2 separate regions of the Homo sapiens genome follow, and region 1 is linked to region 2. The links come from fine-mapping of genetic effects on gene expression. A gene starts in region 2. The other region holds a variant in brackets. All regions are shown on one strand. Distances are from middle to middle.

Evidence for each region. PIP is the estimated chance that this variant, and not a neighbour inherited with it, causes the effect.
Region 1: its variant is the best candidate, but not a certain one, in a credible set for the expression of RAB44 in lung (TOPMed, PIP 0.79).

What each region holds. Positions count from the first base shown.
Region 1 is chr6:36,725,658-36,737,858 of GRCh38, forward strand. It overlaps RAB44 (RAB44, member RAS oncogene family), which reads left to right. Exons shown (of 14, transcript NM_001257357.2): 10 at 205-286; 11 at 1,920-2,034; 12 at 3,043-3,144; 13 at 5,016-5,092; 14 at 6,346-7,527. The coding sequence ends at 6,436. It also overlaps the pseudogene GPR166P. Among named protein-coding and RNA genes, the nearest start is that of RAB44, 34 kb to the left of the region's middle. RefSeq lists enhancers at 1,002-1,141, 9,603-10,104. The variant A/G (reference allele first, on the strand shown) is at 6,167.
Region 2 is chr6:36,691,431-36,703,631 of GRCh38, forward strand. RAB44 (RAB44, member RAS oncogene family) reads left to right here and starts at 6,396. Exons shown (of 14, transcript NM_001257357.2): 1 at 6,396-6,485.

The DNA.
Region 1 (12,201 bases), 34 kb after region 2:
CTTGCGGCAGGGAGGTCTGGGAAGGCTTCTTGGAGGAAGTGGGTCCTCGAGTATGGATGGGATGCAGAGCCGAGGGGAAGCCCGGCAGCCAAGGGCTCCATCGCACCGCAGCTGGTACAGGGGACAGGTGTATACTGGGGTAGGCCTTGGCTAGGAGTCCTGGATGGTAACTTAGTAGGCTTCACCCCTCTCTATGTGTCCTAGGAGTAGATTTTCGGGTCAAAACCTTGCTGGTGGACAACAAGTGCTTTGTGCTGCAGCTCTGGGACACAGCTGGCCAAGAGAGGTAACAGGCACTGTATATCAGTGTGTCAGGAACCTAGGCTGAGCGTAGGGGTGCAGAGGGACAGGGAGCAGCCCTAATAACACAGGCAGGAGGCAACTGCCCCCCAAGGATTCAGGAGGTCAGGGAAGGAGAGATGAGTCAAGCCCAAGGCAGGGGAGAGAGGGCAGCAGAGCCAGAGGTCCCTCAGCCTGGCAGGGCATATATTAGGGCTTCCCAACATGGTCATTAGGGGACAGCCACCCAATCACCTGTCCTTCTAAAAATGCTGGTCTTCTACTTTCAACCTAGGCAGTAGTGATCAAAAATTTTTTTTTCTTCTTGAGATGGAGTCTCGCTGTATTGCTCAGGCTGGAGTACAGTGGCGTGATCTGGGCTCACTGCAACCTCCACTTACCGGGTTCAAGCGATTCTCCTGCTTCAGCCTCTGAGTAGCTGGGACTACAGGTGCCCACCACCACATCCAGCTAATTTTTGTATTTTTAGTAGAGATGGGGTTTCATCATATTGGCCAGGCTGGTCTCGAACTCCTGACCTCGTGATCTACCTGCCTCGGCCTCCCAAAGTGCTGGGATTACAGGCATGAGCCACGGCACCTGGCAGTGATAAAAACTTAAAAGGCATATCTTATTTGATTCTGCAGTTCCACTTCTAGAAATTCATTCTATAAATAGACTCATATGACTATAATAACAAAGGGACCAGGACCAGTCATAGTATTCTCACTTGTGTTATGAAACATAGGAAACAACCTAAATGTCCATCAATAGGGGACCAGTTAAATAAAGGAGGGTCAATCTACCCAGTATAACACCATAAAGCCACACAAAGACTGAGGACTCTCTTTATGTACTAATAGGGATTTTTTTTTTTTTTTTGAGACAGAGTCTTGCTCTGTCACCCAGGCTGGAGTGTGGTGGTGTGATCTCAGCTCACTGCAATCTCCACCTCCAGGGCTTAAGTGATTCTTGTGCCTCAGCCTCCTGAGGAGCTGGGACTACAGACACATACAACCACATCCAGCTAATTTTTGTATTTTTAGTAGACACAGGGTTTCACCATGTTGGCCAGGCCGATCTGGAACTCCTGACCGCAAGTGATCCTCCTGCCTCAGCCTCCCAAAGTGCTGGGATTACAGGCGTGAGCCACCGTGCCCAGCCCGATAGGGAAATTTCTCCAAGACATCCTGTTAACTGGAAAAAAACAAAATGCAGAACACTGAATATTAATGAGTATGATGAATGTTTTACACTGTATTTGTATAAAATAGAGGGGGAAAGATGTATGTGTATGGGTGTATATATGTGTGTGTATATATATGTATATACGTAAAATGCCTCTGGAAAAATATTTAAGAAACTGATAACCCTGGTTGCCTCTGGGGAGGGGGACTGGGTGGCTCCAGGATGGGGCAGAAGGAAGGAGACTTTTCATTGAGTTCTCCTTGAGACCTTTTGAAATTTGAGCCATGAGAACTGTTACCTAGTCAACAATAACTACACTGTACGAAGAAAAGCATACGGACATGCTCTGTGGGAAGCAATTAGAAGTAGGATAGGTTACTTCTCCCACTTTGCAGAGGCCAGGGCCTGGGGTCTGGATGCCTGGTGTGGCCTCATGCAGACTCTCTGGGCAGGTACCACAGTATGACGCGACAGCTGCTCCGCAAGGCTGACGGGGTGGTGCTCATGTACGACATCACCTCCCAGGAGAGCTTTGCCCACGTGCGCTACTGGCTAGACTGTCTCCAGGTGAGCAGATGGCTGCTGGGGTTGGCCCCAGTCCCTCCAGTCAAGAGGGATCTTATATCCTGCCCACTCCCTCTTTTCTCCCAGGATTACAAATGACATGACAGACATATGGGTGACACCACCCACTGAGGGCATGTGGTTGGATGAGCTGGGAATGCAGTAGTACAAAGAAACCACAACCACATAGTACAGACTTCAAACCAAACTACTTCCTTTATCCTGTGAACATTCTCTTCCTACATATGGCAGCTGTTTGTAATGTCTTCTTCTTACACTTGAGGCTAATGTAGTTCTTGTGCCATTCCATGTGGTAATTCCTCTGTTCACACATCTCTAGTTTTTCCCCTGCTTACTTCCTCAAAGCATATATACTGAAATTCTGCAGTGTGTACTAGCACAGCAGAGGGGTGTGAAGTTAGCCATGTTGCCTTCTCTCTGGAAGTTTCTAGTTTAGCAAAAGAAGCAGGATAAGGTAATGTGTGAAGAGGGGAGCTGAGCACTGGGGTCTGACAGGACCTACATTTGAATCCCACCCACCCGAACTCTGTGACTTTGGACAAGTGAATTGAGTTCTCTGAACTTCAATTTCTGGAATTCTCTCATAGGGGAGTTGTGACAATTAATTGATAGAATTGCTTTCAGCACAGCACCTGGTGTATAGCAATCACTCACTAATCAGAAACTATTATTATTATTCATGAGACAATTGGGAAAATGTATAATCAAGTGCTGGACTGTTCAGAACAGGCAGGAAGAGAGGACATGGGCAGGAACAACCCAGGAAGGCTTCCTGGGGGAGGTGTTCTTAAGGTTGGCCTTGGAAAATAAGTGAGATGTTTATCAGCAGAGAGGAAGGATGGGGGAAAGGGTCCAGGTGAGAAGGTTATGGAGTGGATGTGGCCTGGGAGGGGGAACATGCGGGGGACACAGTTCAGCTTCTAGGAAGGCAAATGTGCCAGGAGCCTGGCACACAGTGGGTGTGGCTGACAGAACATGTTCTGTGTGCAGGATGCAGGGTCGGATGGGGTGGTCATCCTTCTCCTGGGAAACAAGATGGACTGTGAGGAGGAACGGCAAGTGTCCGTGGAAGCTGGGCAGCAACTGGCCCAGGTAAGCACTTGGGCATCAGCCCGTCTCTGTGCGTGGACTGGGCAGACACCTCCCTGGCAGGTGGTGGATAGGCATCACCTGACCTGGGCAGCCGAGAAGAACCCGTGGCCCATTCCTGCCCCTGCCCCAACCAAAGGCCTGTTCAGAGTGGACAGCAGCCTAGCCACCTCTGCCTCCCACACAGCCCTGGCCTCTGGAGATGCGCTTTAAGCCCAAACCCAAGGCTGGAGTGGCGGGCGTGACACTGAACCTCACTGTTGAATTAGCACATTCCCACACCATGTCCCCACCTACATAAGAAATAGCTTCAGAGTAAAAAGGTTTTGAAAGCTTTGCTTAAAATTCCCAATCAAATTTTAATTTTATCTCTGGTCTCTAATTAACGTGCTGCCTTCTAAGTTCTCCTATTTTAAGACTCAAATTCTCCCTTGGGATGATTACATCAAAAGCCCCACTGCCAGACAGTGAACACTATCTATTCATGAATGGCATTTAACCACATTCCAGAAAATCTGGAGAGTAATAAAAATAGAGGGAAAAATCACTCCTCGCCCCACCTCTCACACAACCCCTCTTGGCATCTTCCTACTGTATTTCCTTCCTGTTTCTCTTCCCACTTCCCGTAAATTGTGAGGTCATCATTGTGGCTCCTGCTGGAAGGGAATTTTTTTTCTTTCTTTCTTTCTTTTTTTTTTTTTTGAGATGGAATCTTGCTCTGTCACCCAGGCTGGAGTGCAGTGGCACGATCTTGGCTCATTGCAACCTCCGACTCCCGGGTTCAAGCGATTCTCCCACCTCAGCCTCCTTAGTAGCTGGGATTACAGGCATGTGCCACCACGCCCGGCTAATTTTTGTATTTTTAGTAGAGACGGGGTTTCACCATGTTGGCCAGGCTGATCTGGAACTCCTGACCTCAAGGGATCTGCCTACCTCGGGCTCCCAAAGTGCTGGGATTACAGGCGTGAGCCACCATGCTCGGCCTTTTTCTTAAAAGTAGTAACTCATCCCTTTGACATAGTAATTTATCCTCTAGCAATTTATCGTAAGGGAAGACTCAGAAGTAATAATCCCTAAAGGAACACCTAATGGATACCCATGTATAACGTACAATCGAACAGGTTTATATGAGGGTTTTCAAATATTATTTATAAGAACAAACATTTGGCAGCAATTGGTGGTTAAACTGTGGATGTTCATGTGAGAGGTTAGTATTTGCCATTAAGAATCCTGTCTTGGAAAAATATTTAAGGGTGTGGGGGAAATGCTTACAATATAATAGAAAATCATATAAGCAGCTACAAATCTAGATATAGGTTAGGTTGAAACATATGAAATTGCTGATATTTGACTGGAGCTTGCCAAAAATAGCAATTTCGTGTGGTTTAACCTAACTGTACAGGACAGTTAGCCCCCGCCCCGTAAAAGGGTTATATAAAACAGAATGGCAATATCTACCCAAACACTAACAGCAGTGGTTTAGATATTGAGCTGGTACTGTCTTATACTATATCTTCCAATATTCCCCCAATGAAATATTTCTGAAATTAAAAAACATAACTAACATTTATAAAATGTCTCCAGGGGCATTTCTCCAAGTTGGGATGCAGGCTTCCCATGCCACTCCGAAGGCTGTGAAATGTCTCTTCAATGCATTCCTTGACACCTTGGCCAGCCGGGGTGAAGGGACAGTGGGCAAAGGGCTCCAGGCAGGGACCGTGGCCCACGCTGAGATGGGGCTGTCTTGCTCGCCACTGAGGTCAGCTTAGGGATGCATTGGGACTCTGATGGCCGGGACTTTAGTGGCGGGGTATGGCCTGGCCTTTCAGTTGTCTCTCCCAAGGCACATATGTCCCTCCCTGTCTGGCCTGCAGGAACTGGGGGTCTATTTTGGGGAGTGCAGTGCCGCCTTGGGTCACAACATCCTGGAGCCTGTAGTAAACCTGGCCAGGTAAGTGCTGCCCGCCCCCCGCCGCCCCCACCCCCCCCCTTGCAGAATCCTCTGGGACAGCTCCGGCCCCACTCTTGACTCCCAGGTGGGACAGGAAGGCCCATTCTGAGGAAATGGGTCAGGGAAGCACCTAGTTAAAGACCTGGGCTCACCAGTCTGAGGGGAGAGAGAGCCCTGCACTGAGAGTCTCCTGACTCCAGCTCTGCCCTTCCCGTTCGCTGAATCACTCCCCACAGGCACTTAGGCTCTCTGAGCCTCAGTTTTTTCATTTGCAAAGAGGGCTGAGAAAAGGAGTGTCTCTCTTCTGCTCCCAAACTTCCAGTAGCTTCCATTAAAATCCAAATGCTTTGCAATGGCCTGCAGCATCTCTAGTGCCATCTCCCCCACCCCTACACACACACACATTCACTCACACCCACACACACTCACACTCTTACACACACTCACACTCACACACACACACTTGCCAAGTTCCAGCCACTCAGAGACTCCCTCCCTGATCACCCACCTGCCATCACTATTTTGGATCACAGCCCCTGTTTGTGTCCTTCATGGCCCTTCTTGACACGACACATATTAATGATATATGCATTTATCTGTTTTCTTGTTGTCCAGGAAGGCAGGGCCATGTCTGTTTTGTTCAGCCCCTCTCCCCATACCTGGGACCTAGGTGCTCCATAAATGAATAAAATGAGTAAGGCATGAGGGGAGCTAGATCAGATGAGCACCATCTGGCACACAGTAAATATATCACGAAGAAATGAATGGACTTCTTTTGCTTCCCCAGCCTCCAAGCTCTCTCGGCACTGAGCCGCGCCATGGCCCTCTGCTTGGGATGCACCTCCCCCACCCTTTCTGCTGGCATACCTTGTCCATGGCTCAGTTCGGTCACCATCTCCTTCCTCCCCAGATCCCTCCAGGACCTGGTGTGAAGTCCCTGTGTGCCTCCCCATCATTCCCGGGCTGCAGTCACCCCTTTTCCTGTCTGTCTCTCTCACTACTCAAGGGAGGGAATGGTGGCTTCTTTGTCATAGTCAGAGTCCTGCACAGTGCCTGGCACATAGTAGGCCAGAA[A/G]GAGAAGGTCAAAGTCTCAGTGACTCAATTCTTCGGGTCTCATGTGGAATGCAGGGCAGGGGCAGAGCTGTTGTGGGGGTTGTGGGTGCGGCCTCCCACCCCCCAGCTGCACCCATGGGCCCATCCGTGCTGCCCGTAGGAGGTGAGAGAGAGGCCTGATGCCTGGCACTGTCACATAGGTCACTCAGGATGCAAGAAGAAGGCCTGAAGGACTCGCTGGTGAAGGTGGCCCCCAAGAGGCCGCCCAAGAGATTCGGCTGTTGCTCCTGATCACCTGTCCTGTCCTGGGTAGGATGGACACCCATGGGGTTTCCTGTCCCTCAGCTCCTGTCCTTTGTTCCTGGACAGCAACGACACAGAGGACCAGCTTGGAGGTTCAGGAAAACCCTTCTCAACTCAGGACTCGGATCCCAGAGCAGGGCCGCATCACCTCTGCCTTTCACACTCCAAAGGAGGGCTTTGCTGAGTGAACAAGGCTTGAGGGGCAGGGGTATGGCAAAACTCTCCAAACAAAGAAAGTCTAGAAAAACGACTTAAGGAAAATACACCAAAATATTGGCCGCACATCTGTGGGTGTAAAATTTTAGGGAGAATGTGGGGGGGGGGTGTTACTTTCCATTTTACACATATTTGTATTTTCAGATTTTCAACAATAACAGTATTCAATACATAATCAGAAAAAAGAGATGTGGAGGAGGAGGAGAGAAACTTCCCAAGGAGCTCCCTTGGGTGCTGCTGGCTCCTAATTAGTGTAACCTGTTAATCACATGTTGCTCGGTGTTAGAGCGGTCCCTCTGTGCTCTGCTTGGCAGGGCGCTGTTGGCCTGGTCTCCCTCGCTATTTCTATTTGCAAGCATGGGCTTTCTTCCCAGCAGAATCTGGTTCCTGGGAAGAGTAATGTTCCAAAGGCCTCTGATATGCCTCGATGCCCTCCTGTCTTCCAGAGCCCCAACCTCACTCCCTTTCCCCACCATACAAAACACACCTCCCAGGGGTCACATTTGGGGGTCCCGCCCCCTGCTCCAATGCCATGGTGTCCCCAAGCACAGGGCTTTGGCCTGAGTTGTCAGTCTCTGGATGCATTTGAGGGGCAGCTAGGGTGTGGCTGGGGGGTCCAAGCAGCTGGGGAGCCGAGACTCAGAATCATTCACACACTTCTATTTGGAGCTTTTGTGGAAGTTTCCAGAATTCCATAATATTCACCTCCTGAATGGTGGCTGCCCCTTATCAGCTAGGGCTGGGGTTTCCAGTGCCCTCGGAGAGCTTGCTTTAGAGTCTTGGAGAGACGGCCATGGTCTTCGTTTGTATGTCTGTCACATCTTACCATCATCACAAATTGAATATACAACATGTGCCAGGCACTGAATTTGTTTGTTTGTTTTTTGAGACAGGATCTCTCTCTGTTGCGCAGGCTGGAGTACATTGGCATGATCGCCACTCACAACAGCCTCAACTGTCTGGGCTCAAGTGATTCCCCCACCTCAGCCTCCCAAGTAGCTGGGACCATGGGCACATGCCACCACATCCGGCTAATTTTTTAGCTATTTGCAAACACAAGGTCTTGCAATGTTGCTTAGGCTGGTCTCAAACTCCTGGGCTCAAGTGATCCTCCCAATGTGCTGGGATGACAGGCGTGAGCCACCGCCCCCAGCCTGGGTTTGGTATTTTGTAATCCTTCAGGTACTGGGGAATTTCCTGGCTGAATCAATGGAAACCCCAGTTTCATAGGGGGACAAGCAAAGACAGTTCAAGGAACAGAGTTACAGAGAGAGAGAACGAAGGAGAAAGAGGGAGCAACAGAGGGCTGTTGCATCACACAGTCTTAGGCCCTGGCCCCAACCCCTCTTCTCAGTTCTGAAAGGAACGTCTCAGCAGCAGTGAGCCTTCCATCACCAGAGGCGCACAAGAAGACAGGTAATGCTTGGCAAAGGTGAGGTAGAGAAGATCCCAGCATCTGAAGCTGCCAAAGTTGGATTAGATTCCCTTAATGGACCCCATTCAACCTCCAGACTCCATGTGGATGATTCCCATGGTCCAGCTGATTCTTTGTGTGTTTTTGTTTTGTTTTGTTTTGTTTTGTTTTTTTGAGACGGAGTCTCACTCAGTCGCTAGGCTGGAGCACAGGGGCGCAATCTCGGCTCACTGCAACCTCCACCTCCCGGGTTCACGCCATTCTCCTGCCTCAGCCTCCCAAGTAGCTGGGCCTACAGGCGCCCGCCACCTCACCCAGCTAATTTTTTGTATTTTTAGTAGAGACGGGGTTTCACCATGTTGGTCAGGATGGTCTCGATCTCTTGACCTCATAATCCACCCGCCTCGGCCTCCCAGAGTGCTGGGATTACAGGCATGAGCCACCGCGCCCGGCCCTCCAGCTGATTCTTTTACTGGGCCCTTCACTGATCCTTTTTACCCCAATGTCTTCTCCCATCTCAGGTCCCCTCCCGCAGCCCACAAGCCTGCCCCTGAACTGAGCAGTTTCTCAGTGTGCTCAGAGAGAGAGAGAGAGAGAGAGAGAGAGAGAGAGAGAGAGAGAGAGAGAGAGAGAGAGAGAGGGGTGTGGGCTGCAGTGAGTGATGCTGGCCCTGGATAAGGATGGGAAACAGGTCCTATAGTTGCTAATGGCTCTTTCTCTGGGGCCCAGGGACCTGGCAGGCACCAACATCTCTGTCCTGTAGGCCAGGGAATTAATGAGGCAGGTAGGCAGGGTGTGATTCCTGGGAGAGGCAGTAGAGCAGACAGCCCCTGTCGTTTGGGGGCCCGGTACGGGAGTGGCCCCCAGGCCTCCCCGTCTCAGCTCAGCTCTGTTGTGGCCTCAGGCAACTCAGGTTCGCAGGAGGTGGAGTTCTGGGAGGAACTCCACACTGCCCAGCACCCTCTTTTGGCTTTCTTGGGCCGGATCCACCTGCTGGGCAGGGCACAGCTGTGCAAGGACCACCAGCCTTTCCTGCTGTCAAAGGGCTCACAAGCCAGGGAACAGGACCCAGGAACCTCAGAGCAGCACAAAGTAGGCAACGACAGCAGCAGGAGAAACTTGAGGTAGACTTCAGAGTGAACTTCCAGGCAAGTGGTGAGTTCTTGGGGCATGTCAGCCAAGGAGGCTCTGATTTAGGCTTAGCCAGAGTCTGATTAAGAAAAGGAGGGTGGGACTGGGCTGATGGGACTCAGGCTGTGGAGTGAGAAGGGAGGGCATGGGGAGAGAAGGAAGGCTGGGCAGGAGCTCTAAGAGAAGAGGGCTTTTGGGAGCTGAGGGTGAGCAGGGGCAGAATGACATCCCTCCTTTACCCAGTGCCTACCGTATGCCAGGCACTGTTCTGAGCACCTAGCTCGTGTTAATTCATTTAGCCCTCACACCATCAGGCGTGCTCCCCCATCTTACGGAAAAGGAAAGTACTGCATAGGGAGGCTGAGTAACTTCCCCGTAGTCACGTAGCAAGTAAGTGCTGGAGCCAGTGTTAAACGCAAACGCCGATACCCATAGACTTAACTCTGAAGTTATGCAACTGCTTACAGGAAGATGCGGATGCTTCGGGGAAGGAGGGGCCAGGTCCCTGAAGCCTCGTATTGCTCCCTGCCAATTCCTCTCCAGTAATAGTCCATGTCATTGGTGGGTGTGGACCAGGAAAAAGAGACGAAAAGGCAGTGATAAATGCCAGGAAAGTGGCTGGATGACAGCCTTCATCCAGGACAGGTCCTTCATTTCCCCTCCTCCTGCCGTCTCTGAAGCTGGTGGGACCCGGGAAGGTGGCCGACATCAGAATTCACAGAGGCCCCCTCTCCAGTCTCCCCTCAGCTGCCCTCAGGCACGTTGCTGCCCTGGGGCCCCAGAGACGAAGCCAAGTTCCCCAGGCTGGGGCTCTGCAGGAGGGACTCAGAGACTCCTTCAAACCTGGCTTTGAGCCCGCAGGAGAAGAGTGTCTCCAGCCCCCACCCCGGTGTGGTAGAAAAGGGGAGGGCAACTCCAGTAAGGACTCCTCTGCTATGTCTTGTTTGCTGCTGGATTCCGGGAACCTGGTCCAGAGCAAATGCTCAGGAAATATGTACTGAGTTAGCAGGCAAGCCTCCAGCTAAAGCTCCCGGGCCCTGGCCTGGCCTGCAGGGCGGCCAATGGTGACATCAGCCACTGGGCTGGCTCTAGGATGTCTACATCCCATCTTGTAGCCAGAGTCCTCCCAATCGGGGACTCCCCCTGCCCTTGACATGTGGGACAGAGTGGGGGTGAGAAGAAAGGTCTGACCACTGGGTGCAGACTCCCCCACTCTGCCAGGGGCCTGCACAGCATAACCTAGAGGGCAATGATTCCCAGGCTGGTCTGCCCTTAGAATTATTTGGGATCTTTCAAAAATGCTAAAGCCCAGACCAACTATGTCATGTCTCTGGGGGTGGGACCCAGGCTTCTGTATTTGTGAAACTCCTCAGGTGATCCCAAAGTGCAGAGAAGCTTGGGAACCACTGGAAGGGGCTTCACACCTTCTCAAAGCCCTTTCAGACCCACTTTTCCATTTGAACCTCAAATTAAACCTGCTTGTTTCACAGGGCAGGGTTTTTGTTTTGTCAAAAAATAGATACATATGTGTGTGTGTATGTATGCACATATATATTTATCAGATTATGAAAACAATGTGTACTCCCTGCAGAAATTTTAGAAATAAATTTTAAAGAAGAAAATGAAAATTACCCTAGTCTTACCACTTATGATAGTTACTATTGACATCTGTTTTATTTTATTTCCTTGCTTTCTTACAGCTGAGGAAACTGAGGTAGAGAAACATTAAGTAACTCTCCCAGGGGCCAGGTGCGGTGGCGCCTGTAATCCCAGCACTTTGGGAGGCCGAGGCATGAGAATCGCTTGAACCTAGGAGGCGGAGGTTGCAGTGAGTCAAGATCTCACTCCAGCCTGGGTGATAGAGTGAGATTCTGTTTCTAAAAAAATAAATAAATAAATAAATCCCAGGGTACTGGAGCTAGCAAGCAGCAGAGGCAGGATTTGAACCCAGGGTACTAATGGAGTCCATCCCATGGGGTTGTCATGAGGTCTGCAGGGGCTAATGTGTGCCAAGGACAGGCCTTATCTGGGCCCACTACATGCAGGGGGTCTGTGAAAAAAGGAGGCTTAGCAGGAATGGGGAAGGCGGCCTTTGGGGCTGGCTGGTTTCTACTTTGTCCTTGTGTGTTTGAAACAGAATGGAGCCCAATGCTACGTTCACCACGCAGCTCACGGCCACACCTGAGCGACTGCTCCGACTCATCTCTGCTGGGGTCTGTGGCCTCATCCTGCTGGTGGGGCTGTCAGCTAATGGGCTCATGCTGCTGGTGGTGGGCCGGGGCCCGGGCTCCCCCCACCCGCTCCACTCCCTGACCCACAGCCTCATGATGAACATCACGCCATCTGACCTGCTCTTCCTGGCCTGCGTGGTGCCTGTGCTGCTGCTGAGCTTCCTGCAGCACAACTGGTGGCTGGGCCCTGCCATCTGCACCATTAGCCAGGCCACCAACACAGCCACCACGTTCTGCATCTTCTATAGCATGGTGGCCACAGCTCTCCTGCGCCATGTGGCTGTGGCCCGGCCTGACCTGGCCTTCCCAGCCGGCTGGGGCACCCTCTTGCTGCTCTGTGGGGCCATGTGGGCCCTGGGCCTTACAGAATCCCTGCCCAACTGGCTGTTCCAGAGGGTGGCAGTGGAGGAGGAGACAGCGGGGGCTCCCAAGACCCAGGCCTGCCTCTTGCTCCTGAGCCCTGCTGGGACCTCCTGCTACATCAGCCTGCTGGGAGCCCTGGCCTTCCTGCCATGCACGCTGGGGCTGGGCTGCTCTTTCAGCCACGTGGGCTGGCTCCTGTGGACCCAGCCCCAAGGTCCCATGGGAGAGAGCATCCAGGAGCATTAAGAGAACATAGGGCTCAGCCTTGTGGTGCTGGTGGTTTTTGTGCTGATGTGGGGGCCCTGCTCCATGCTGGGTTATGTGGCAGCCATGGGCTACCTGCCTGCCACACCGGCTGCTTTTGTGGCCTCCAGCCTCTGCACCATCCTGGCCTACTC
Region 2 (12,201 bases):
CTTTAGTCTCTCTTGAAGCTTCACCCCTTTTACAATCAGATCCTGGGCCTGATTTTCAGCACAGCCTACTCTTGGGCCATGAGAGATAAGTGTCATTTAGAATGCTGTTATGGAGTTCTGTCTTCACAACATACCCTGAGTTTTCTTCAAGGTTTCTAGGGCAATTAACAAAAGCCAACCAACCCCATAATCCTTATCATTACTATTGCCCTGTATCTTTCAAGTATTAGACTTACAGTGTAAGTCAGTGTTGCCCCTGAAATTTTACCTGTGCCTCATCCCAATCCACTACACACATTGTGGACACTGTGATGCTGTAGTCTGCCAAGAGTTATCACCACCTTACTCACTACCAGCATTTGGGTCCGCGTTGTCACTTCACTGGTGAGGGATCTGTTTTCAGAAGCCCATCCTGCTTCTGCCATTTCTGGTAACTGTCTTAGTCACCCCCAACCCCCACTCCCCAAACAACTTGAGACAAGGACTTGTGTGCAGGTGGAATGCCTGGGAGGTAGTCCCTGGAGGCACAGCAGGAAAGTAGAGAATGTGAGAAAGAAAAGGAGAAGGCCAATAAAGGTGTCAGTGAACAAGTTCCACTGTGTGCAACTGGGGCTTAAACCTGCTAGGGAGCCTCAAGGAAACCGTGTGGAACACACCCTACAATTTTCTCTCTGGAGTACTCACCTGGCTATCTAGGCTACTTATCTAAGGACACTGTCCATCACTGATAGGGCTGCCTCTAGGGCCTAGTCCAGATTGCTCCTCATGGGGTGGAAGAAATTCCTGTAATGGTGAAGAAAACCAGAGGGATGAAGACATTTGAGGTGGGAAATCATTAGCCTGCCAGGAACTATCTACCAAAGGTTTAGGTGAACACAGATATGGGCCAGATAGTGCCTGAGCTCACGCCCCTAGGAAGTGGTGAGGGGCCAGGATGTCCACGCTGATGACTCCAGATCACACTGCCTGCTCAATACACCAGAAAGGGGAAGTGCCTCACCCAGGGCCACTGCTGCCGTGACAATTCTAAGAGGAGGCTTGCAGGGACCCACCTCTTTCTGTGCACCTCCTCAGTCTTTGATGTAACTTAGGTTTTCTCAATCTTATGTAAAATGCTACCCAAATGCAGCTTTGAAGCAAGCTCCCTGACCCTGGTTTTCTGTGGGATTGCCCACCTGCCTAAGCTCCTTGAGCTATTTTGGAGTCAGTAGCTGGAGGCAGGGAGGCTCAGGTCCTAGCTTGCACATCAGCTCACACTGCAGGGCCCTAGAATGGAGAGTTTGTTGCTTCAGGATTTAACAAGCTGTGAAGAGCTTTCAAGCATCTGTAAGGAATTAAAAATTAGTGAGTGTGAAAACTTTCCTAATTGTAAAACAGTTTCACTGCCCTTGATCCTTGTCCATTGATTCTATTTTTGCAAAACCTAGTTCCGAGCACAGTGTTTTTAAGTTCAGCAACATCGTATTTTTCAGTTAGCTCCATCGTTTCCAAACGTGCCTGGATCTAATTTTTCTCCTAGCGCTTGGTGTGTCCTGGCAGGTTTTTTCCCTGGGGCTGGTGCCAAGGACAAGGCCAGGCTGAGCTCTCAGCACCCGCAGGACTCCTTGGCACTCCGGCTCCACCCGCGAGGGTGTGACCACTCTTGCCTTCCCCATGTCCCTTTTATTTCCATGGTGGGGAGCAGGGCCGGTGAGGGTTGGGGGGCAAATAAACTGAGGATGCCTTGAGATCCTGAGGGCTGGGCCTTAAAAATCCAACCCCACTCTGTTCTCAGAGGAGTGGAGAGAGTCCTTTGCTGCAAAGAAGGTCCTGGACTTGTTGCATTTGCCCAGATAGAGCAGCAAGCCCCGCTGGCCCTATTTTCAGTACATATCCCGAGTCCAGCCACCTTTCATCACCTCCACCACTGCCCTCCGCGGCCAAGCCACTGCCTCTTGTCTGGATTATGTTAACTCCTCATGGGTCTCCCTGCTGCTGCTTTTGCCTAGTACAGCCTCTTCTCCAGAATGAAAGCAGCGGGGGGATCCCTTTCAAACCTAAGTCGGTTCATGTCGCCCTCCAAATGGGCCCATATGGTCTCCGGGTCCTGCCTGTTTCCTCTGTCTCCATCTCCGCCCATCCTTCCCTCTCCCGCGTGCTCCCACCATGGAGCTCTCCTCGTTGTTTCTCTTGCACACAAAGCGTGCTCCTGCCTCGGGGCCTCGGCACTCACCGTTCCCTCCCCCTCGAACCTCTTCTTCCAGATCTTCTTTCTCACATGTCCTTTCCAACATCACCTCCTCAGGCCTCCCCTGAGCACCTCATCTAAAATACACCTCACACCACCATTCTAGCCCTTCAGTCTACTTTGCTTTTCTTCAAAACAATTACCACTGTTTGGCATTATATTACATATGGCTTTTTTTACCCTACATTTTTCTACATTTTCATATTCTATATTTTCTATATTTTGTATTTCGTAGCACAGTGTCCAGCACCTAGAAGTGCTTAATAAACATTTGTTGAATAAATAAGCCGGGTGCGGTGGCTAGTGCCTGTAATCCCAGCACTTTGGGAGGCCGAGGCAGGTGGATCACTTGAGTCCAGGAGTTCCAGACCAGCCTGGACAACATGGTGAAACCCCTATCTCTACGAAAAATACAATAATTAGCTGGGTGTGTTGGTGCATGCCTATAATCCCAGCTACTTGGGAGGCTGAGGTGTAAGGATCTCTTAAGCCCGGGAGGCTGTAGTGAGCTATGATTGTGCCATTGCACTCCAGCCTAAGCAACAGAGTGAGGCCCTGTCTCAAAAATAATAATAATAATAAATAAATGAGTACCTTATTTAGTTCAATAAAGCCTCAGAAACTCTCTGAGTATCAATTTCCTCAGATAGTTGGTTGTGAGAATATTCATTTATTTAGAAATTAAATTTAATAATTTTTAAAACTTTTTGTTTTGAAATAATCTTATACATCCAGAGAAGTTGCAAATATAGTAAAATAATCCCCATATACCCTTTACCATTGTTCCTAAATGTTAACATTTTACCATGTTTCCTTCATCAGTCTCTCTTTGTATATGTACATACTATTGTTAAGTTTCTTTTTGAATAGGTAATGTATACAGATAGTACACAACATAAAATACATTAAAAGTAAACAGTGAAACATAAATCTGCCCCCTCCTCCATCCCAACACTTCTATCCAGCCCAAATCTGACTAGTTTCTTGTATATCCTGTCAGAAATGTTCTATGCATTTACAATCATATATGAATGTGTGTGCTTATCTATTTTTTTCTTTTTTTGAGACAGGGCCTCATTCTGCCGCCCAGGCTGGAGTGCAGTGGTACAATCACGGCTCACTGCAGCCTTGACCTCCAGGGCTCAGGCGATCCTCCCACCTTAGCTTCCCGAGTAGCTGGTACTACAGACATGCGCCACCACGCCTGGCTAATTTTGTTTATTTTTTATAGAGACAAGGTTTCACCTTGTTGCCCAGGCTGGTCTTTAACTCCTGGGCTCAAGCAATCTGCCTGTCTCAGCCTCCAAAAGTGCTAGGATTACAGGTGTGAGCCACCTCACCTGGCCTGTATTAGTCCATTTTCACACTGCTATAGAGAAATACCGGAAACTGGGTAATTTACAAAGGAAAGAGATTTAATTGACTCACAGTTCCATATGGCTGGGGAGGCCTCAGGAGACTTACAATCATGGCGGAAGGTGAGGGGAAGCAAGGACCTTCTTCACATGGCAGCAGGGGAGGAAAGTATATAAGCACAGGAAAAACTGCCATTTATAAAACCATCAGCTCTCTTGAGAATTCACTCACTGTTACGAGAACAGCATGGGGGAAACTGCCCCCATAATCCAATCACTTCCTTCCTTTGACACATAGGGAGTATAATTCAAGATGAGATTTGGGTGAGGACATAAAACTTAACTATATCACGGCCCTTATCTATTGCATATATTTCATACACACACATACACTTTTTTCTTCATAAAAAGCACACTATCCTCACTGTTCTGCACCTTACTTTTTTCATATGACACAATATCTTGAAGGTCATTCCATATCACTCCACCTGGATCTTTCTCATTTTCTTCACGGTGCAGAGTATGCCAATGTTCGGATGTATCAGAGCTCATTTAACCAGCTCCCTACTGATGGAAATTTAGATCATTTCCAATCCTTTGCTACCACAGACAATACTGTAATGAGTATCCTTCCATACTGTCATATTGTATATCATCTGTGGAATCAATGACTGAAAGTGAAATTGCTGGGTAGAAAGATTTTTGCATTTTAAATGTTGACAGATATTATACACTTCTTTTCATAAAAGTTGTACCAGTTTATATTCCTGCCAATAATGTGTGAATGTGTTTCCTACATCCTTTATGACATAATATATCACTTTTTGGATCTTACTAATTGAATAGCTGAAAATGATGTCTCGGTGTAGTTTTATTTTTTATTTTTACCCTCATCTTCTTTGTGATGGTACGTAGTTTTATCTTTTATTTCTCTTATTATATTTTTATAAACAGAAATGTTTACTTTTATAAATATTTTTCATATGTTTAAATCCATTGATATTTATTTTTCCATGAATTGTTTATTCACATATGGTGCCAATTTCTCTAATGCATTATTGGTCTTTCATTGATCTGCAGGAGTTCTTTACAGAGGGAGGAAATTAACTTATTTTCTATGATACGTAAGTATTTTTTCAGAGTTTGCCTTTTGACTTATCAGTGGTGACCTTTTTTTGCCATTCAGTTTTATTTATTTTTAAAAAGTTTCCGTATGGTTGAATGGCTCAATATTTTCTTTTGTGGCTTCTAATGCTTTGTGATATATCTGGAAAGGCCTTGCCTAATCCAAGATTATTTAAAAATTATCCCATGATCTCTTTCTTCCTTTTTTTCTTCTTTCTCTTCTTCTTCTTCTTCTTCCTCCTCCTCCTCCTTCTTCTTCTCCTTCTTTATTATTATTATTTTTTAATGGAGACGGGGTCTCACTATGTTGTCCAGACTGGTCTTGAATTCCTGGGCTCAGGCGATCCTCCTGCCTCAGCCTCTCAGAGTGCTGGGATTACAGGCATGAGCCACCACACCCAGCCTATCCCATGACAGATCTATCTTTCCTTCCTTCCTTCCTCTTTTTTTCTTTCTTTCTTTCTTTCTTTCTTTCTTTCTTTCTTTCTTTCTTTCTTTCTTTCTTTCTTTCTCTTTCTTTCTTTCTTTCTTAGTTTCTTTCTTCTTTCTTTCTTTTTTCTTTCTTCTCTTTCTCTCTCTTTCTTTCTCTCTCTTCTTTCTCTTTCTCTTTCTCTCTCTTCCTTCTTCCTTCCTTCCTCCCTCCCTCCCTCCCTCCCTTCCTTCCCTCCTTCCTTCCTTTTCTTTCCTTCCTTCTTCTGCAACCATGGCAAATGAACTATGCCATGATTTCTTATGGCATTTGTTCAAACATACAGAAAAGCAGAAGAACATAATGAGCCTGCAGTACCCTCATTAACTCCAGCAGGGATCAGAACAGGTCCAGAGCCAGTCTTGTTTCATCTATGTCCTACCTATTCTCCACACTCTTCAATAATTTTGAAGTAAATCCCAAACAACATATAATTATGTGATTTTGATTTTTAAAATGCTTATGTCTTTTATCCATCTGGAATGCTTTTAGAGTTAGAGCTCTTTGTTTTTTGCAGATACCTAGCCCATTCTCCCAACATAGTTTATTGAATAAACCATCTCTTCTCCAATGATTTGAAGTGGTGCCTTTATGATACACTAAATCCCCACAAATATTTGAGTCTATTCCTGTCCCACAAATATTTGAGTCTATTTCATTATTCTGTTCCACTGATTCATCTGTCTATAGTCATGCTCCAATTCCACACTGTTCTGATGGTTGTAGCTCTACAGTGTATTTTGGTATCAGACTAGATTGTTCCCTAAAAGGTGGTTTAGATATAAAGCCTCCCCTGAGGCTCAAAGACACTGTCTGAGAGTGAGGGCCTGAAGTGAGGCAGGATGGGCAGTTCTCCCGGGGCATCCCATACACTTAGCTTCAGCCACGGCTGTGCCCATCAACCTGCTGCTGTCTGGGATAAGGCATTGCCTTGGCAACCAGAGACTGAGGCCCAGTCCTGGCTGTGCCACTAAGGGCTGGGTGATCTTGAGCAGTCCATCTCACTCTTTGGAGCCTCTGCTTAGGAGGGCCTCCCTGCCAGCTCCAGCATTCTCCACTTCAAGACACCAATCAGGGCAGGGATGCCTGGGGGTGCCAGGCAAAATTGTGAAAGGGCCGCCAGTGGTCGCTTCCACAGGAAGTCCTGTAGATGAGCACAGGAGATTGGCTCGCTGGGGAACGGAAAGGGAGATTAAGCAAGACAAGACTGTTAACAGTTCTAGAGCTCGTGGGCTCCGCAGGGCAGCAGTCACCCTACCACCAGGTCCCAGAGCCCAGGGCTGTGTGTTCCACTGGGAGCCTTTGAGAGGTAGGAGCCATCCCAAGGTTGCAATGCTTCTTTTTCTTTGGAAGGATGAGGATGGGGGAGGGAGCTGGGGTCCCTGTTTAACTTCTATGTCAAGGGTGCAAAAGGCAGAGCCCTCTTTTCTCCTGCATTTGGAGCTCTCTGCATGGTCTAAGGGAGGGGATGGGAAAGCACTTGGGCAAGAGGCTGGGGTACATCACTACCCGTAAATGGCTGTGTGACCTAGGGCAAGTCACCTGGTTTCTCAGAGCCTCAGTTTCTCTGTTAGTTAGGAGAGGAGGAGTGAGGATAAGTAGACTGGAACAAGACACTAGGTGGTCTCTCAGGCCCACTGACTTGGACCACTGGGGTTTAGCGACTGTGGCTATTATTTACAGCTATTGAAGCCAGCCAAGTGGAGAGCAGACCCAGTTCTGAGCGCCCTTTGGTGAGACAGTGATGGATACCCGGAGGCCCCAGGCAGGGCCCATGCCAGGTTGTAATCTGCTGCTGCCTGCTGCCCCACCCCACTCTTCTTCTCTGGCTTCCACTTCCTGGTGGGCAGCCTGTGGTGCCTGCTGCCTAACAGAATACCACGGTGGTAGTGGATTCCCGCAGGTGCTTGGGAGTGGGATTCATTTGCTCTCATGTTTGGCTTCAAGTTTTATGCGATTTCTTAGGTGAGGGATGTGGGGAGAGGTGGTCATGCTGAGGGGCTATATGTGTGTCCTAGCCATGAAGGGGTCCCCCACTCTTAAGGACGTGAGGCATGAGGATGCACTAAGGGGAAAGTGGTGGAGGAGAAGGGCGCTGGCAGGGTGGCCCTGCCAGCTGACTCGGAGGGATGTGTGTGCTGGGCGACGGCATTTGCACATGCAGAATGGAATGATGGAATGGCCGTGAGGGGTGCTGTGTCTGACTGAGAGGCTGATGGTGAGGGATTGGAGGGTGAGGATGATGGCCAAGGAGGGTGTGTGTGCGTGCACGTTTGCACGTGTACATTTGTGGATTGACTGAAGGATGTCCTTGCTGTCTCTGAGGGACCAGGCCTGGCCTAGAAGGGACACAGACTGTTTTTAGGTTGTGCTGTCAGGCCGTGGGGGTGCTGTCAGGGATCTGAATGTGAAGGCACGAGGGGTGAGTGCACCATCCCACCTGATGGTGACAAGTGACTGATTTTGAGGTGGCGATGGCTGGAGGGCACCTGCTGCCTTCCTGCCCCAGGCCACCTGTCAGGCAAGGAGCGGGTGGCTGAGTACCCCTCCTGGGAGAGAAGGATTGACTGGCAGAGAGGGCAGATGCTGAGGTGGGGCAGGCGAGGTGTCTGGAAGGTGCTATTTTCTTAAAAAATGCCAGGGGACTGCTGGAAATGGGCTGTGGAGGTGTAGCTTGGCTAGGAACTCCCAGAAAGGAAAGTCAGGAATGCCACATGTCCTAGGATGTGGCTGCAGGGAATTTCTTCCAGGATTCTAACATCCTACACCTGTGGGAGCCCGGCAGGCTGCGATGTGACACTCACATCACAGTGGACTTTGCTTCTGGAGGCTTCTGCACAGGGAATCTTATCTTGCTCCCTTGGCCGTGTTAGCTCCATTGCCGGAAGTACATGAGACATTGGGCGTCACCACAGGAGCCAAGCCTGTCAACGCCCACCCCGTTCCAAAGCCCTTGTCCCACTCAGGGCTACTCCACTGGGTGTTTGTCATCCCCAGAGGGGCCTTCTGCCCAGGGAAGAGCCACCTCTGTAGCCTTGGGGAAGTCCATCCCATGACCAACCAGAAGAGCAGAGTCTGGTGTAGTTCTACCACTGACATCATGGCTGGGGCAGGTCACTCTGCCTCTTGGAACCTCCCTCAGTTTCCTCATCTGTCAAATGGGATCAATTGTATCTGCATGGAACCTGGCTTTTATGTGCCTCAAATAGAATTCACCTTTATCAATATCATCACCACTGTTGTCATTGCTACCTTTACCTGGTAGTCACTGATACCAAGCGCACTCCTAAGTGGCTTTATGTGGATCATATATTCAGCAAATATTTGCAGAGTACCAACTGTGTGCCAAGCGCTGTTCTAGGCTCTTGGGATAGAACAGTGAACAGAATGGTCATCTCCCTACTCACGTGAGGCCTCTATTTCAGCATGAGGAGAAGGAAAATTTACAACAAAAACGAGCAAAAGGCTCTCTATTCTGGGAAGGTGACAAGTGCTAAGAGAAAGTGAAGCTGGAAAGGGAGGTGGGCCATGCTGGGGAATGGGAACTGATGTTTCAACTTTAATTATCTTGCTTAATCCTCGCAGCATCCCCGTGGGAGAGATATTAGTCCTAAGTTTCCAGTGAGGAAACTCAGGCACAGAGATGCTGATTGACTTCCCTAAGGTTGCACAGCCCATGGGCAGCAGAGCTGGGAGAAGCAGAGGTCTGTCTGACTTCACAGCAATGGGACTGGAAGTCACTTTCTCTTGTGAGCCTCCTTTTCTGCATCTCCAGGTCACGAGAGTGGGACTGACCCTCATAGTTCTGAGGCTCAGTGAGTCTTTCTTTTAATTTTACTTTTTTATTTTTTTGAGACAGAATCTCACTCTGTCGCCCAGGCTGGAGTGCAGTGGTGAATCATAGCTCACTGCAGTTTTGACCTCCTGGGCTCAAGTGATCCTCCCATCTCAGCCTCCCAAGTAGCTAGGACTACAGGCACCCCACCATGCCCAGCTAGTTTTATTTTATTTTGTAGAGACAGGGTCTCGCTATGTTGCCCAGGCTGGTCCTGAACTCCTGGGCTCAAGTGATCCTCTCGCCTCAGCCTCCCAAAGTACTGGGATTACAGGCCACCACGCCCAGCTTATTTTGTTGTTGTTGTTTTGTTTATTAATCCCCTTCTATGCTACAGGGAGTCTTTCTTTGAGTGTAACCTGCAAGGCTGGAACTGCCAGGCCAAACCCCATTAGCCACTGAAGAAGGGTCATAGGCCCATGGAGGGAGGGGGCTCCCCTCTTAGGGGGGATGGGGAATGGAGATAGATGGTGTCTTTCTAGGTGTGGAAGGCCTCTAGGCCCAAGAAGGGGTATCTATGTGGTCACTGTTTCCATGGAGCAACATGGGATGAATTAGGGGTGAGAGATACCGCGTGAAGGCCAGTTAGATTAGCATGGGGACTTCCCTATTCTAACCCGTAGAATCTTATTCCTCATTCTTGGCTTTTTTGCCTCCCTGCTTTTTATTAGAAAGACTTTTTTTCTGAGACAGTGTCTCACTCTGTTGCCTAGGCTAGAGTGCAGTGGTGCAATCTTGGCTCACTGCAACCTCTGCCTCTTGGGTTCAAGTGATTGTCCCACCTCAATCTCCCTAATAGCTAGAACTTCAAGCACACGCCACCATGCCTGGCTAATTTTTTGTTTTTGATAGAGATGGAGTTTCATCATGTTGCCCAGGCTGGTCTCAAACTCCTGGCTTCAAGTAATCCACCCCGTTGGCCTCCCAAAGTGTTAGGATTAGAGGTGTGAGCCACTGTGTCTGGCCGTGATATTTTCTGAGTCTCTTCAGTTGTCTGTTAGAACATTCCACATTCTAGGGGACCATGAATCAGCAGAGGAAGTGGGTTGAGAGCCCAGTACATATCCTAAGCAAGGTTGGGCACTATGAGGGCATCAGGGTTAAGTATAATCTCTCCTGCCCTGGAGCTCACTGCTAAGCTATGTCACCTCCCCCAGGAAGCCCTCTCTGACACCCTGATCAGTGAGTTGCTCCTTTTTCAGTGCTCTCCCAGCACCTGACACACAGGTATGCTGCCCCTTCTGTGCTGCACTGTAATTATGTTTGTGTCTCCTGCATGAGGCTGTGAGGACCCCTAGGGGAGAACAGGAGTTAGTCACACCTCTACCTGCAGGGCCAGGGACTCTGCTGGGGTGTACAAGGTGTGTCCTGCACAAGGATGCCCAGCCAAGGGGGTGCATGGGGACTGGAATCCAGCCCACATTCCACTTGTCAAACCATGAGCCCTGGCACTGGGCTGTGTCTGCCAGCAGGAAGTACCTTTTCCTAATTCACTTAAAGGAAACATATGGATTGCAGCGGGCCTGCTTAGCACTGTACCGGCATTCAGTTGGCGCTCGGTAAATGGTTGTTGCTTATGTGCATGATAGAGGGTGGGAAGGGTTGGGGCAGATGAAAGTCTTCAGAAGAGGTGTGCTGGTGACTATTCTTTGGTGGGGGCAGGAGACCTGATTCATGGCATTTGCTGATTCCCATGGTGCCAATACTCCCACAGTGGCTGATGCCAAGCTGCTGGGATAGGAAGGGGTGTGCACAGTCAGCCCTCACAAGCCCCTAATAGTGGACTCCAGCTCACCACTGCGGTTTTACATTTATGATCTTAAAACTTCATCTGAAACAGACTTCGAAGGGGGAGAGAGAGAGAGAGAGAGAGAGAGAGAGAGAGAGAGAGAGAGAGAATGTACTTCTGTTTGAAGTTTGGGGCCTCCTAAGGATGAGAGATTGCTTCATCCAGTTCTGTGCAACCTGTGCCGTTCCCCTTGGGAAGCTTGCCCAAGGGGAGGCCGTGGAATGACCCCCTGGAATGAGCCCATGAGGCCTAAAGCAGAGCCCTCTAACCACTCCACCCAGCCTGTCTGTGGCCTTCGGCCTCAACAGAGAATGCCCAGGGGAGATATCTATTCCATCTCCTGGGCATGAGCCTTACTATTCTGCCTCGATTCCTTCACACACACTGTTTACTGCTTCCAAATCCTACATGCCTCCTGCAGAACCTGCACAAGCCCCACCACTTGCAGGAAGCTGCCCTGTCTGTCTGGACATCAAGTCCTTCTCATCCCATAGCTTTATGGGCCCCAGACTTGTTCCCGCAAAGCAGGCTCAGACTTTATCCCTTTCAAACCACAGCCTCTCTTTTCCTCACCCCAGGGGCCTCACCTGGATGAATCCCCAACCATCAAAATCCTTATCAATTGACTGAACTAAGACATTCAGTGACAGGTGAATGAACAATGAATTTGACACCCCTTACTTGAGCACTTGACATGTGCTAAGGGGGCGGGGAGCAGTATGGACCTAGATAAACAGTGATATCCACAGCTGGGGCAGCATGGGGCCTGCCTTAGTCTGTTTTGTACTACCGCAGATACCATAGAATGGGAAATTTACATAGAGCAGAAATTTATTTCCTCATCCTTCTGGAGGCTAGAAAGTTCAAGATTAAGGAGGTAGAATCTGGCGTGGGCCTTCTTGTGGTGTCTTCCCATGGTGGAAGGCAGAAGGACGACAGGGAGCACGAGGGTCTGAGTCCATCTTTTAACAAGGAACTCATTTTTACAATAATGGCATTCATCCATTCATGAGGACGGTGCCCCCATGACCCAAACAATTCCCATCAGGCCCCATCGCCCAACACTGCTTCACTGGGGATCAAGTTTCCAACACATGAACTTTGGGGAACACATTCAAACCATAGCAGGGTTGCAGACAAGGGGGCACTGAGCCCAGCTTGAATGCAGGGGTGACTGCAGGGAAGGCTTCTTGGAGGAGGCAGCCTGTAAGGTGAGGAAGCAAAAGGTATTAACTATGTAAGGGAGTGAGAGAGTTGAGGAGTTTGGGGCAAAGGGAGCAGGGTGGGAGGGAATCAGGAATTCCAGGAACCATGAGTGGTTCAGTGGTGTTGCCATGGACCCCAAGGGCACAGGGGTGGGGTGGATGAAGCTGAGGCCATGTCACGTGGGGCCCTAAGAGC